Linked DNA regions of Homo sapiens. The protein of the gene in region 2 purifies or fractionates together with the protein of the main gene of each other region. This does not show direct contact. Each region holds a gene or a part of one and is shown on either strand. Other genes may lie near its edges.

Region 1 (3,647 bases), on a different chromosome or scaffold from region 2:
GAGTGCAGTGCCACAATCTTGGCTCACTGTAACCTCTGCCTCCTGGGCTCAAGCAATTCTCCTGCCTCAGCCTCTCAAGTAGCTGGGATTACAGGAGCCCACCATCACACCTGGCAAATTGTTGTATTTTTAGTAGAGACAGGGTTTCACCATGTTGGTCAGGCTGGTCTCAAACTCCTGACCTCAAGTGATCTGCCCACCTCGGCCCCCCAAACTGCTGGGATTATGGGCGTGAGCCACCATGTCTGGCCCCAGCTAATTTTTGTATTTTTAGTAAAGATGGGGTTTCGCCATGTTCACCAGGCCAGTCTCGAACTCCTGACCTCAGGTCATCTGCCTGCCTAACCATTCCAAAGTGCTGGGATTACAGGCATGAGCCACTGCGTTCAGCACCCAGAAGAAATCTTTCCAAAGCACAACTCTGGGCCGGGCATGGTGGCTCACGCCTGTAATCCCAGCACTTTGGGAGGCCGAGGCCGGTGGATCATGAGGTCAGGAGATCGAGACCGTCCTGGCCAACATGGTGAAACCCCACCTCTACTAAAAATACAAAAATTAGCTGGGTATAGTGGCATGCGCCTGTAGTCCCAGATACTCGGGAGGCTGAGGCAGGAGAATTGCTTGAACCCAGGAGGCAGAGGCTGCAGTGAGCCAAGATCACACCACTGCACTCCAGCCTGGCAACAGAGCAAGACTCCGTCTCAAAAAAAAAAAAAAAAGCACAAATCTGACCTGGCACCTTGCTTGCTAGAATCTGCCATGGCTCCCCAGTGCCCTCAGGAGCACAAAGATCAACTCATTACCGTGCCCTCTAGTGTGAGCTGACCCCATAGAATTTCTCTGGCCTCCTCCCTTACCACTGCCCATGCCATCCTTCTCCACTCTGCAGCCCGAGGAAGTCTGTGAAAATGTAAATCTGAGCACAAGGCTTACTCAAGAACTATGTATGGCTCCCCACTGCCTTCAAAATAGGGCCCACACTTCCAAGCCAAACCCCACAAAGCCCTGTGTGTCCTGCCAACAACCCTCTAGACCCTGCTGGGACCCTGATTCCAGCTGCTAGGAGGCCCAGCAGGGACAGAAAAAGGTGAGCTTACCTTTGGCGTAGGTGCTGACAAGGGTGGCAAAGTTAGCAAGGAGGGTGAGCGGGGAGAAGTCAGCAAGGTCGGTGATCTCCAGAGTATGCAGCAGGGACCGGAGGCGTTCAGCACAGAATCTGGCGGGGAGGAGAGACGGGGTCGGGGGGCAGACGGAAGCATGAGCAGGACCAGCAGCCCTGCCTCCGCCATCACGACGGTCACGTGCCTGTCTCCCCAGCCAATGAGCACTCAGTGAGGGTGGGCACTGGGCCTGTTTTGGAAACTTGCACCCCCACGCTGTACACCTGCATGTCACAAATAGCCATTGCCGCATAATGGCACAGACAGAGCAATAATCAGACACTCCAGAGTCATGTGGTCACTTGTCACACCTGCTAGCACGACCTCCTAAGTGGGTTCTTTTTTTCTTTTTCTTTTTTTTCTTTGTTCAGATGGAGTCTTGCCCTGTCATCCAGGCTGGAGAGCACTGGTACCATCTCGACTCCGCCTCCTGGGTTCAAATGATTCTCCTGCCTCAGCCTCCCAAGTAGCTGGGATTACAGGTGCCTGCCACCACACTCAGCTAATTTTTGTACTTTTAGTAGAGACGGACTTTCACTATGTTGGCCAGGCTGGTCTTGAACTTCTGACCTCGTGATCCACCTGCCTCAGCCTCCCAAAGTGCTGGGATGACAGGTGTGAGCCACTGCACCTGGCCCTAAGTGGGTTCTGATCAAAACAAGAGACGCACAATCACACCCAGAACCCCCCAGTCATGGCATTAATCCCGCATGGCCACATGGTCACGCATTCACACCCAGAGCCTCTCCCACTGCCTCTCACGCACCTATGGGGACACACACGGTGTCGGAACCCCATGGGCTCACAGAGGAATGCAGTCAACACCCACATCCCACAGAGTCCCACGGATACCACGTCCACACACTCACGCATGTGCAGGGCCACTCGGCCACAACCACACACAGGCAGGGCCGAGGCAGGGTCATAGAGCAGCTGGCTTTGAAGCCAGGTGGGCAGTCACACTTGCAAACCTGCCTCCCGCACGTCAGCCCTCCCAGCCTGGCTCCTCTAACCCCAGGCGCCTACCCCGGCTGGTCGCTAGCTGAGGATGAGTCTGTCCCCTCCACTGGGCCATGGAGCCTCTACGGCTGTGTCCCCAGCATGAAGCAGGCACTTGGGGAATGTGTGTTGAGTGACTGAGATCCCCTCTTTGCCCTCACAAGTCTCCAATCCTGGGGAAGATGGGCAAACCCACATGGAAGGTGGCCTCACCCACAGAGGCAGGGCAGCCAGGGCCTTTGGAGCCCACAGGCATGGCTTCAAGCCCCAACTACCGGGCACAGTGCTGTGTGGCTCTGGGCAAAGGCTTCCCCTCTGGGAGTCCCAGTGTCCTCATTTGCAGGGTGGGGATGCTGTACTGGGGGTGCAACTGAGGTAAGGAACATAAAGGGCTTAGCTCCTCCTTAGTGCTCAGGGCAGGGTAGGTGATTGGCTTCGCTGCTCTCTCATTAACCCACCAAAGAACCCTGTGAAGTAAAGACCCGACTCCTTGGCCATTTTACAAAGGAGGAAACTGCAGTTCAAAGAAGACCCATGACTTACCCAAAGGAAAAGCCCCCTCGTATCCCTTGGTCATTCTCTGCCTGCCCTGTGCCTCAAGAGACTGACTCCCCCAAAATGCGCCCAGACTACTCCATGGGGACGCCCCTGCCCTCAGGTTTGGAAGATTAGAGGCATCGGTGGGAAGATACATGGGCCGGGGACACCTCCTCCAGCTCCCAGCCTGCGAGGCCCTGGTACTGGTTTCTGCTCCCAGCAGAAGCCCCTGTCCAGGCCCCCACCAGTTGGTTCTCAACACACTCCCTCCCTGCCGCTGTGGCCTGGCTTAGCTCCCAGCTCTCACCTCCCACCCTCCTTGGCTCCTCCCCCAGCCCGCCCCTCTGTAAATGGTGCTCCCACTCTCTCTTGGGTGGGGGAGATTCTCCAATCCAGCCAGGTGTTGCCTGCCAGGCCCCTGCCCGACGCACGGACCCAGGATCAGCTCCAACCTTGCTCCCGGACCTCCCAGGTCAGACCAGACAAGGTCCCACGTGCCTCGCCCAGCTCACTCACTCCTGATGCTGCAGTGGTGACCTGGGGCTACAGGCGTGGAGGACACGGCTCTGCATAACCGGGACCTGCCGGGCCCCCACCCCGCGCGCTGTCTGGGGCCGCACCTGAGGGGCTTGCGCTGGATGCACACGCGCTGGGCCAGGCCGCTCAGGAAGGCGGGCGGGCTCTCCTGCACCACATGCTGCACACGCAGCCGCCACTTCACGTACTCCAGCAGCCGCCTCAGGAAGCCCAGGAAATGCTCGGCCGTGCGGATGGAGCCAGGCACTGCCTCTGCGAGGAGACGCTATCAGCGGCGACGGGGAGGCGGGAAAGGGACTGGGGGGCAGCGGGGGGTCGGGGCTCACCCTGCAGCACTTCGTCGGGCAGCACGGGGTTGGCCAGGTGGGCGTCCGTCTCCCGGGCGGCGCTGGCCTCCCGCAGCCCCTCCACCAG
Region 2 (3,647 bases):
GACCAGTTAATATTTTTGTCTCCAGGGTCTAACTTTCCTTATTCAATATATAGCAGGTACTCACTACATATTTTTCAAATCAGATATTTATTCTTATCTAGAATCACCTGGAGATAAATATAAATGAATGTTAAAAACTACCAAACCACTTTAAATAGAAGAATGTTATTATGGTATATAAATTATATCAATAAATCTGTTTTTTTCAATGCCAATGAAGACCCTATCATAGACTGCTACATATGAAAAACTGAATTCTATAGTCATGTTATACATATCTTCCCTGGGATTTATATATTGAAGGTATAAACTACCAAAACAATTTTACATGAGCCTGATATACTGAAAATGTTAAATAACATCTAGATGTTTTCTAGAATTTTTCAAAATCCTTAGGCAATTCTAAGAACTAGATATGGTATACTGGCTCAATTTTTTCTTATGCTTCATTTCTTAACACTAACCATTTTCTTTCTGGAAAACTGTCTTCAGCTTTGGAACTTTGCTAAAATCAACACGTTTATATTCTTCATCTTCTTTCACCACTACATCTGGTTGACCTAAAATAAAAATATTTTAAGTAAAATCGCTCAAAACAAGTAGTCATTCAGCAAGCAACTGTTGTACAAGATGCCTAGTAGTCTGTGCCTCCCTTTGTATCCCTGCTTCACTTAAACCATCCCAAGTAAACACTCATCTAGAATCTGTTAACTATAACCTCTATTATGTTACCATCTTAAAAAGAGAAACTTACAAAGTAGCTTCACAATTTTTTTTTTTTTTTTTTTTTTTTTTGAGGCAGGGTTTCCCTCTCCTGCTTAGGCTGGCATGATCACAGTTTACCTCATCCTCTCCAGGCCCATGTGATCCTCCCACCTCAGCCTCCCAAGTAGCTGGGACTACAGGTGGGAGCCACCACAGCCAGCTAATTTTGTTTGTTTGAAATGGTCTTGCACAGTCTCCCAATAGAGTGCAATGCTACAAACCTAGCTCACTGCAGCCTCGGACTCCTGGGCTCAATTGATCCTCCTGCCTTGGATTCCCTAGTAGCTGGGACTACAGGCGTGTGCTGCTATACCCAGCTAATTTTTAATTTTTTTGTGTGGAGGCCAAGTCTCACTTCGTTGCCCAGGCTGGTCTCAAACTCCTGGGCTCAAGCAATCCTCCCACCTCGGCCTCCCAAAGTGTTGGGATTACAGGTGTGAGCCACTGCACCCAGCCACAAAATTTAAATCTTCTACACCTCCATGTCCCCTTTTCTTCCTCAACTCCCTTCTATGATCACAGACCCCACTCTCCTGACCCCAGAGGCAGCTGTCTGACCTACACTAGATAAGCTCTAGTATTCTGTCACCTAGAGCACAGTAATCATTCCTGGAATAGAATTGTAACCTAAAGCAAGTTAATGAGTCTTCATTGTGGATTTATTCTGCTGGAACTGGTGAGAAAGTCTCTCCTTTTTGAGAACCCTATATATGTGACCCTAGAGGTAGAGGCAGCAACTTTAGAAAGGCTGAGAGAATAAAGCACAAAAGCCTGCAGGTGTGAGAAGCCAAGAGAGCATGTCTTAGTAGTAGTGAACACCCAGTTCCAATCCCTGAAGTTCCCAGAGCTGAATGGTTGCTACTGTTCATCCTTCAGTTCTTGGAGGCACTCCCGGTAACCTTCTAGTAAATCCCTTTTCAATTTAAAATACCGTATTGACTGTCACAGGAAAAAGTTCTAATAAATTTCTCAAATTTAAAGTAATACTCAGGGATCTTATAAATGGATTGAAATCTGACATTAAGTTGGGTAGATTTATATTCTCTCTGAACTGGCAACTCTTCACTTTTTATTAACCATAAGCAGTTGAAATGAACCAAGATAATGTCCTAATTTAAAACTTAAGCATAAAACATTCAGCAACATGAAAAGTCTATTCATCCTTTTTGGAACATTATCTCTACCTTTTACTGTAACTGTGACAGGAATAACTTCATTTCCAAATTTCCCAGCTTCCCATGCTGCTTTACTTCTGGTATAAGAATTAATAGCATAAGCGTCCTGTTCATTTCGTGCAATATTCAGCTTCTTTGCTGTATTCTCAGCACAGCTGCCCTGATAAAAAGTTGAAATATTTTAAAGTTAACTTTGCATAATTTAGAAAATATCTATTAACTTTGCCTAACTTATAGTGTTTAATAGTTAACGTTTCTTAAAATATATTTCTTAGGCCGGAGGTGGTGGCTCATGCCTGTAATCCCAGCACTTTGGGGGGCCAAGGCAGGCAGATCATGAGGTCAGGAGATCAAGACCATCCTGGCCAACATGGTGAAACCCCGTCTCTACTAAAAATTAGCCGGGCATGGGGGCACGTGCCTGTAGTCCCAGCTACTCGGGAGCCTGAGGCAGGAGAATTGCTTGAGCCCAGGAGGCGGAGGCTGCAGTGAGCTAAGACTGTGCCACTGCACTCCAGCCTGGGCAACAGAGCAAGACACCATTTCAAAAAAATAATAATAACATATATATATACACACACACATATATATTTCTTTCTATACCAGGTCACTTTTCACTCATGTCTTTTTTTGAGACGGAGTTTGACTCTTGTCACCCAGGCTGGAGTGCAGTGGTGCAATCTTGGCTCAATGCAACCTCCACCTCCCGGGTTCAAGCAATTCTCCTGCCTCAGCCTCCTGAGTAGCTGGGATTACAGACACCACCACCACGCCTGGCTAATTTTTTTGTATTTTTAATAGAGACAGGGTCTCACCACATTGGCCAAGCCGGTCTCAAACTCCTGACCCCAGGTGATCCACCTGCCTCGGCCTCCCAAAGTGCTGGGATTACAGGCCAGAGCCACCGCACCCAGCCACTCATGTCTTATCTTCACATACTTGAATTAGCCAAGCAGTTGCCAGCTAAGCGTCAGAAATTACCCTATTTAAATGTGGGAAAATTTCTTTAATGACTGAGCCATGCCGATGCAATAGGCATACAAAAATATTCTCCAAAAGTACACGGCTAAAATCAACATTTATAGAGCCCATCTTTCAGTTCAGTTTGTAAAGTACATAGAGTAAGAAAAATCAAACAGTATTGGACATTAGATAGCATTTATCCACTAAAAATCACATTTACCATATGAATTTTATTGTAGACATCAGTTAGCCCGTCTTTTACAATCAAATCTTCAAGCTTTACCCCACCATATGGTGTTGATCCTCTGTTCATTACATATGGAACATTGGACATGCTCTCCATCCCACCTGCCACCATCACATCCTGCGCAGAAACACCAGAAAAACCCAATGTTAATACAAATATTTTGCAAACCCATGACACCCTTTATACAGCTACCACCAAACAAGTATTCTACATGCATTTATTAAACATTTGTTACACAGTGAATACAGGAAGTACCCTCTTTACCACTTCACCCTGATGAAAAGAAATGGTGTTAAATAATATAATGAGAAATAAGTTGGCTGGGTGCAGTGGCTCACACCTGTAATCCCAGCACTTTAGAAGGCTGAGGCAGGTGGATCACTTGAGGTCAGGAGTTCTGGATCCGCCTGGCCAACATGGTGAAACCCCGTCTCTACTAAAAATACAAAAATTAGCTGGGTGTGGTGGTGGGCACTTCTAATCCCAGCTACTCGGGA

What was found. The genes of interacting proteins can lie anywhere in the genome.
Region 1: the proteins of ACAT1 (region 2) and ERCC2 fractionate together in Homo sapiens (co-fractionation; one large-scale study listed by BioGRID). This does not show direct contact.

The regions. Positions count from the first base shown.
Region 1 is NC_000019.10:45,360,427-45,364,073, forward strand, and holds part of ERCC2 (general transcription and DNA repair factor IIH helicase subunit XPD), read right to left. Parts: coding exon 3,560-3,647; intron 3,486-3,559; coding exon 3,317-3,485; intron 1,217-3,316; coding exon 1,098-1,216; intron 1-1,097. UniProt on the Homo sapiens protein: ATP-dependent 5'-3' DNA helicase. Component of the general transcription and DNA repair factor IIH (TFIIH) core complex, not absolutely essential for minimal transcription in vitro.
Region 2 is NC_000011.10:108,138,518-108,142,164, reverse strand, and holds part of ACAT1 (acetyl-CoA acetyltransferase, mitochondrial isoform b precursor), read right to left. Parts: intron 3,268-3,647; coding exon 3,124-3,267; intron 2,101-3,123; coding exon 1,950-2,100; intron 561-1,949; coding exon 465-560; intron 1-464. UniProt on the Homo sapiens protein: This is one of the enzymes that catalyzes the last step of the mitochondrial beta-oxidation pathway, an aerobic process breaking down fatty acids into acetyl-CoA.